2 linked regions of the Homo sapiens genome follow. The protein of the gene in region 1 interacts with the protein of each later gene in a pairwise test. Each region holds a gene or a part of one and is shown on either strand. Other genes may lie near its edges.

The links.
Region 2: the proteins of XAF1 (region 1) and GLS2 interact in binary tests that used the Homo sapiens proteins (3 or more experiments, as listed by UniProt).

The regions. Positions count from the first base shown.
Region 1 is NC_000017.11:6,758,895-6,762,806, forward strand, and holds part of XAF1 (XIAP-associated factor 1), read left to right. Parts: coding exon of another isoform or gene 1-65; intron 66-361; coding exon of another isoform or gene 362-580; exon of another isoform or gene 581-767; coding exon 768-824; intron 825-1,511; coding exon 1,512-1,707; intron 1,708-2,991; exon of another isoform or gene 2,992-3,013; coding exon of another isoform or gene 3,014-3,147; intron 3,148-3,260; coding exon 3,261-3,346; intron 3,347-3,912. UniProt on the Homo sapiens protein: Seems to function as a negative regulator of members of the IAP (inhibitor of apoptosis protein) family. Inhibits anti-caspase activity of BIRC4. Induces cleavage and inactivation of BIRC4 independent of caspase activation.
Region 2 is NC_000012.12:56,486,708-56,490,619, forward strand, and holds the start of GLS2 (glutaminase liver isoform, mitochondrial isoform 1 precursor), read right to left. Parts: upstream 1,455-3,912; 5' UTR 1,412-1,454; coding exon 1,230-1,411; intron 893-1,229; exon of another isoform or gene 862-892; coding exon of another isoform or gene 788-861; intron 626-787; exon of another isoform or gene 280-625; intron 246-279; exon of another isoform or gene 133-245; intron 1-132.

The sequences.
Region 1 (3,912 bases):
CAGTCCTCCCTGCAGGAGAGATGGGGTCTGAGAGTTGGGGGACGAGGGTCCAGTCCTCCCTGCAGGTGAGATGGGGTCTGGGAGGGGCAAGTGTTCCATCCTCCCTGCAAGAAAGAAGGGGTCTGGGAGTCAGGGAATGGCTCCAGTCCTCCCTGCAGGAGAGATGGGGTCCGGGAGTTGGGGTGAGGGCTGGGGACTTAAGGCAAGGGTCCAGTCCCCCAGGCAGAGACTCACTTGAGGGCCATGGGAAGTCATTTAGCCCCTCCACACAAAGCCCATGGAAAGGAAATGTTAATCCTGCCTTTTTCATGCTAATCTGAGTCTACCTCCAGTTTTCCTATTTCCAATCCTTTCCCTACAGGCTTATGGATCTGGCATAGGCAAGAGGTTCTGGTTTCAGGAAAGACTGGCTGTTCTCTTGAGATCTGTAAAGAGAGGATGTGAAAAAGGAAGGTCCTGGAAGGCAGTCAGATGGAGCCCTGTTTCCCGCCTTTCCATGTCCATTCCTCCTGGGGCCCCTGATCTGTCTCTCTGGAGATACTCAAGCTCAGGCAGCCGTTGCCAACTCAGACTGGTCTGACAAACACTTCTTGAACACTGGGCGGGGTGCTAGAGAGACACTGAGGTAGCCACATCGGATCCCTGCCCTCTGGGAGTTCACAGACCCAAACCCGGAACACTGTGAGCCAAAGTGGATGTGGGGCAGGCCCTGGGTGCTGGGTGGACCCACATCTGGTGTGTGTGTGTGTGTGTGTGTGTGTGTTTAGGTTGGGTGTACGATGTGTCAGCAGAGCATGCAGAAGTCCTCGCTGGAGTTTCATAAGGTAAGAGCCCCATGTGATTTCTCCTTTACAGCCAAATAGACCAACCTGAGAAAAGGAGAGGAAGGGGAAACGGGAGGCCAGTAATAGAGATTTCCACCTGACCACTCTTTTCACCCCATTAGGCTTGGAGAGCAGTGGAGAACTAGCCCACCGCATAACACAGGTTCTCCTGTCCCCCAGATACTGATCAGAAGGGTTTTCCATGGTCCATGAGTCCATCAGAGCTCAGATCCCCCGAAGGCAGTCCCGCACTCTGGCCCTTCTCATCTGCTTTCTCGTATTGGCCCTAATTCCCTAGGGAGATGGGCACAAGTCCTTGATCTGCCTACAGTCAAAGAGGCCAGTGATCGGCCAGGCGCAGTGGCACACGCCTGTAATCCCAGCACTTTGGGAGGCCAAGGCGGGTGGATCACGAGGTCAGGAGTTCGAGACCAGCCTGACCAACATGGTGAAACCCCGTCTCTACTAAAAGTACAAAAATTAGCTGGGCGTGGTGGCACACGCCTGTGGTCCCAGCCACTTGGGAGGCTGAGGCAGGAGAATTGCTTGAACCCGGGAGGCGGAGGTTGCAGTGAGCCAAGATCAAGCCACTGCACTCCAGCCTGGGCAACACAATGAGACTCTGTCTCAAAAAAAAAAAAAAAAAAAAAGGGCCAGTGATCATGCCCTTCCTGCTGCCTCCCACAGGCCAATGAGTGCCAGGAGCGCCCTGTTGAGTGTAAGTTCTGCAAACTGGACATGCAGCTCAGCAAGCTGGAGCTCCACGAGTCCTACTGTGGCAGCCGGACAGAGCTCTGCCAAGGCTGTGGCCAGTTCATCATGCACCGCATGCTCGCCCAGCACAGAGATGTCTGTCGCAGTGAACAGGCCCAGCTCGGGAAAGGTAAGCACACAAACTGGGGTGGAAGAGAGACGTTCCAAGGGCCAGAGCCTTTCCTGGATGGGATGCAAGGAAGGGAAGCTCTCAACAGGACGGATGACAAGTGTATTTGCTGTATAGATCTCAATTCATCTGGCTATTCTAATTCTAAACCATGCCTCAGAGTGGCCTTCCTGTGTGTCTGCTGTGGCCTTCAAATGACTGGTCCAGGGAGACTAGGAGGCCGGGGCTAGAGCCTAGCTACCACAAAGTTGAGTAAAGAGGCCATGGAGAAGGCTGGGCGGGGTGGCTAATGCCTGTAATCCCAGCACTTTGGGAGGCTGAGGCGGGCAGATCACCTGAGGTTGGGAGTTCGAGACCACCTTGACCAACATGGAGAAACCCCGTCTCTACTAAAAATACAAAATTAGCCGGGCGTGGTGGCGGACGCCTGTAGTCCCAGCTACTTGGGAGACTGAGGCAGGAGAATCACTTGAACCCGGTAGGCGGAGGTTGCAGTGAGTCGAGATCGTGCCATTGCACTCCAGCCTGGGCAACAAGAGCAAAACTCTGTCTCAAAAAAAAAAGGGGGGGACCATGGGGAGTCCTAGGAAACAGGAGGCTTTCTTTGAGCACCTCTAGCACAGTCCTAGCCTGGCAGAGATCCATTGCATCCTTTTACAGATGAGAAACCTACACACAGAATAAAGCAGGGACTTGCTAGAGGCAAAAATAAGACTGGACTCCCGCACTTCCTGGCACTGAATCTAGGGCTTTTTCCATTATCAACAATGGCCAGAAGGGAGTTAGCAATGGCTCCTGGCCTGGGGGCCTATGTATTGGCTCCCTGGTACCATTTTATGTTCACTTGAATCACTCACCTCTTTATGAGGGTGTATTTACTGTCACACAACCATCAGTGTGACAGATCCTTTGGTGTCTTTGCTAGTTGTTTTGGTAACATGGTAACATGGGAGAGAGCCTAAAACTCCCCAGACAGTAACCTTCTCCTGATAAACAATCCACCCAAGGGCAAAACTGGCCAATGGAAACCTGGAAATTGTGAGAGTCATGTATATTTCCTTCATCCCAGCATGGCTGGACGTCAACAGAATCAAACACAGTCTTCAACACAACTTCAGTGCAACACAACACAACACAACACAACACAGCTTCAACACTGTCAACAAAAATGTGTTCAACCAACACCTGGTCTGATCACAGAGTCTGAAAACTGGTGCAATGAAAGAGCACAGTCAGAATGGAGGGGGTTGGCATCCGTGGCTACAGCTCCATTCATCTCCTTAGAAACCAGTCCTGATCCAGGAAAATGTCTCTCCATTACGGTTGCTGCTGCCCTGAGTGCACATCTGTGGCCATAAAGGAAATGATGTGGGTGATTCGGCCAAGAGTTGCCTGTGTGGTCAAGGATGCCGGCAGCGCAGGAAAGTCAAGACCAGGCAGGTCCGGGGGGCAGTTCGTGCTCATGAGCACAGGCCATGTATGCAGTTGTGGGAGAGCTGGGCTAGCCGTTGACAAGGACAATCATTTGTGGTGTTGTTTCTCTGCTTATTCAGGGGAAAGAATTTCAGCTCCTGAAAGGGAAATCTACTGTCATTATTGCAACCAAATGATTCCAGAAAATAAGTATTTCCACCATATGGTGAGTAGCACTTAGTAATTTTCTAATGGTGCCAATAGTTCATCCACATTCTGAAAAGTGTGATAGGAAAGGCAGATTCTGGGCCCAATTTTACATAGCATGGATATTAAAGGGTCCCATATTTATTTTTTGCTTTGTTCCAAAAGATAGTTTAGTGACTTGCTTAGGCTAATCAAGCACACAAAAATTGGTCTTCATTTGTGCCCAGCCCTTCAAAGGGGCTTCCCTTGCCACTCCCAACACCCCCGATCACCTCTGACCATCTCCAAACTTCATGGCCTGGACATTGCAATTTGGTCCTCAGTAGGGCCTGTCTTACTGTTTTCGGTCCCATGTGGGAGTCTTCTCTATTAGACTGTGAGCTTCCTGCAAAACTGCATGACTTTTTCCATTTTCCTGACATCAGAGCTTGGTGCAAAAAGAGGACTCTGTAGAGGCGCAGTTACGTGATTGACTGACTGACTGATTTTGCCTGGGAACACTCACAGGTTCTTCCCTCCATAGCCCCTAAGCGCCGTTTAGTGCATTGCTGTGCCAAGTTGCTCCCTTCTTTTGCACAGAATGGA
Region 2 (3,912 bases), on another chromosome or scaffold:
GCGCGCACCTGTAATCCCAGCTACTCGAGGTAATCCCAGCTATTCGAGAGGCTGAGGCAGGAGAATTACTTGAACCCAGGAGGTGGAGATTGCAGTGAGTCGAGATGGTGCCACTGCACTCCAGCCTGTGTGACAGAGTGAGACTCCGTCTCAAAAAAGAAAGAAATAAAAGTACTGCATAATGTCATTAATAATAAATAATACCTATTGGTGTCCCTTACGACAGAGACTCGAGTAGTGGTGAGGTAGTGTTGTGTCAGAGACTCGAGTAGTGGTGAGGTAGTGTTGTGTCAGTCTGGCTACTTTACTGATGGTGTCCATGTTTCTGAGTGTCATCAGGGAGATGGCAGCGACGAGGGAGATGGCCCATTTCCTGTTCCTGCTACAGTAGAGCAGGGGCTCTTTGGACAGTGTCTATGCTGGCCCTCTGGGGAGGACAAGATTTCCTGCTCAGCACCGTCTGGGTCTCAGAGAAAAAGGCTCAGCCACCAAGTGTGTCCTAGGCGGTGGGGAAGATAAAGGTTTGGCATCCTGGGTGGAAGAAACACCCAAAGGAAGAGAACGTTTTAGATTCTGGAGCCTGGGCAGCACAAATAAAGGCTCTGACTGGCTCTGGTTTGGGAAATCTGCGTCTTAAAGACCTTTCCTCCATTACAAATATTCTCCCCATTCAACAACCAGTTTGGAAATTCCCCCCCATTCTGCTGTTCAGGGAGCACTGCTACGCACACACCCAACACTTATGGACGTACCTGCGCACCAATAATACACGCGCATCACACATTACCTGCCGAGAACACGCAGAAACACAACACACAGACCCCAGTACACCTGGACCGGAGGCAGGAGGCTGTTCCACATCCACGCATCTCCTAAAATACACACGAGGACTAGGGAAGGTGAGGACTGGCGGCGTGAGCCCGGCCCTGCACTCAGACACGTGAGCCAAGCAACACTCGGCGCGCATCTGTGATCCGGGTTAAGTGCGCACCTTGGACAGGCGCCATCCCCAGGACCCGCTTGCCCGAACGCACTCCTAGGCAGACGGCAGATTACCGCCCGAGCGCGGCGCACCCAAAGCCCCACATCCAAAGGAAAAGGCACCGAGGGCTAGTGAGCGAGGAGAGGGGAGATGAGCGGCGCTGCCTTGGAAGGGCACTCGGGAACTAGCGAGAACCACAGTGGGAGTGGGGGCAAGCCCGTCCCCTGCCCTGTCCCAGGAGCCTTACTGATCCTGGTGCTGCGGCTGGTGGCTGTGTGGCGTCTCTCTGCCCTGCGCCGCGGCCTCACTGAGGTGGTGCCGGACGCCCCCGCCAAGGAGGGGGCTCCGGCTCGGGTGACCCCAGCCTCCTCGCCCGCAGTGACTGCCAGCCCGGCTCAGGGCCTTCTGCAGAGCCTTCATGGAGCGCATGCCCCAGCAAGCCTCCGGCTCTGCAGGTGCGCCCGGGACCTCTAGCTGTGGCTGGGAAGGAGGGGCGGAGCGAGCGAGACAAGGTGCGGGGGAGTTCTGTGAGGGAGCGCTGGACCTGGAAGACGGAGAATGTGGGCCCGGTGGGTGGGGCTGGGGCTGGGGCAGGAGAAGGGGCCTGCCCCTTTAAAGCTGGCTCCAGGGTTAGGGGCACCCTCAGGACAGGGGCTAGGTGAGGAGCGTTGGGGATGAAGGAGAACCCGGGTGGCTTTCTAGTGGGTGGAGAGAGGGCGGTGCCTGGGAGCTGGAATGGACAATGCCCAGGTCCAATCACTGAGGAAGCAAAAACATTGAGGCGGGGAAAGGGTAAGGTTGCCCAATGAGAGCAAGACGGTGGGACCTTGCGACAGTCTGCGGATGCTTCCGCGTGGGCCCGGCGAGCGCGGGTATCCGCGGATGCTGAGGGCGGGAAAGGCGAGGACAAGCTGAGGCGAAGCCGGTGGGGGCGGGAGGCGCTCCCCGGGAACACCGTGGGGCTGCGAATGATGGAGTTGTCGTGTAGAGAGGAGGGTGCTGCCTCGAGAGAGGAGGCTAAGTAAGAGTGAGCCCAGTTCAGGAGGTCACTCAGAGAGCCTCGACCTCCGAAGGCCAAACCAGCGCCCAGTAACCCGGCGGGTAGCGTGGCGCGCGGCCGACGTGCGGTGGTGCTGAGTGGAGAGTAGGATGACTGCTGGGTACCCCGGGCAGAAGCAGCCGACCAGCACCTCAGGGAGGCATTGGGCGGCGGGAAGGTCGCTCTGGCGGTTAGGAAGCCTGGGTTCCAGTTTGTGTCCCTCTACCATTTATTTGGTGTAGGACTTGTTTTCAAATCTGGAAAGTTAAGACATTAAAATAAGTTGGCACGCAGAAAAACGTTTTATAAACCATGAAGTGCTCCCCACATTTTTCCTATTTTAATTGTTTGCCCTTGTCCTCCTCACGGGCAGAAAAGAGGCGATATACAAAAAGCATTTTGAAATCCAAGAACATTCAGGACTTTTGCCATTTGCAGCTAGAACTTTCACCTTGTATCTCGGCAGCGCCTAACCCAGCATCCATATTTAGTAGGGACTCATTATGTAAATGATAGCTATTATTGAGTGCCCATGGTGTTCCAACCGCTTAGTTTCTCTCTCCCTCTTACCAGAGACCTACAAAGTAGTTATTAGTCTCAATTTGAAGGTGAGGAAACTAAGACTAGGAAATTAAGAATTCTCGCATAAGGTAACCCAGCTAGTAAGTACCAGAACCAGAAATTAGACCCGTTTTTTTTTTTTAACTACAAGTCTCTCCTTCATGCAGCCCTTCTCAAAAATTAAGCATTGAATTGAATTATCCCGGGAGAAATGACCCCATCCCTAAAGGAGGTATTTTATGTGGAAGTATTATGATACAGTACTGGGAGTCTTTTCCTTGTGATAGTTCTGGCTGTATCACAAAATACTAGTTTTTGTTTGTTTGTTTTTGAGACGAAGTTTTGCTCTTGTTGCCCTAGCTGGAGTGCAATGGCGCAATCTCGACTCACTGCAACCTCCGCCTCCTGGGTTCATGCGATTCTCCTGCCTCAGCCTCCCTAGTAGCTGGGATTACAGGCGCCTGCTACCTCGCCCAGCTAATTTTTTGTATTTAGTAAAGATGTGGTTTCGCCATATCGGTCAGGCTGGTCTCAAACTCCTGACCTCAGATGATCCGCCCGCCTCAGCCTCCCACAAGTGCTGGGATTACAGGCATGAGCCACCGTGCTTGTCCCATAGTTTTCATTTTTGGATTAAAATGAGTTTCAAGGGTACTCGTGGGAAAACAAGTACTGAAACCAGTCAGGTGTGTTCTGTGGAAAGGCAGTTCTCCTTTGCCTTGGTTAGGGTTGGAGGGCTTATTTGGCTTAAAACCAGATGGAGTGACATTTGTTTTTGCTTGTTTTCGCCTTCTGTAGTCATTCTGTGTCTGCTGTATCTGTTCTCCTGTCCGTGGAAAGCCGTCTAATTCTGGGAGGGCTTGCTGCTTTATGCTTGGCTTTGCCCAAGAGGCAGAGTTCTGGGTCTCAATACTTAACGTAAACTCAATCCTGCATTAGTTTTTTTCATACGTAACAGACGAATCTTATCCTTGTTTCATAGAAATATGATTTATCTGAAACGTTTTGATCTATTCAAGAGAAAAATACCATCTGTTAGGGAATTTCTAAACATTACCCAGAAGTAATTTGCTTCCTTTTTTTCCTATTTCTGCCTCTTTGAATTAGCTTTATACTCTAATGAGTTCCTTACTCTCTTTCTCCCAGCACTCTTCCACTAATAGGAACTGGTTGGGTAGTGAAGAAGATCTATGCATGGAAGCAGAGGTTCTTTGCTTAGAGAACTAGCTCCAGCTGCACTTGGACCTTTGGACTAACTGTCTCCAATACAATATTGCTGTCTTTGCATGAGGATGGAGCATGAACTGGTGACTTGGGAGGCCAATGGTAC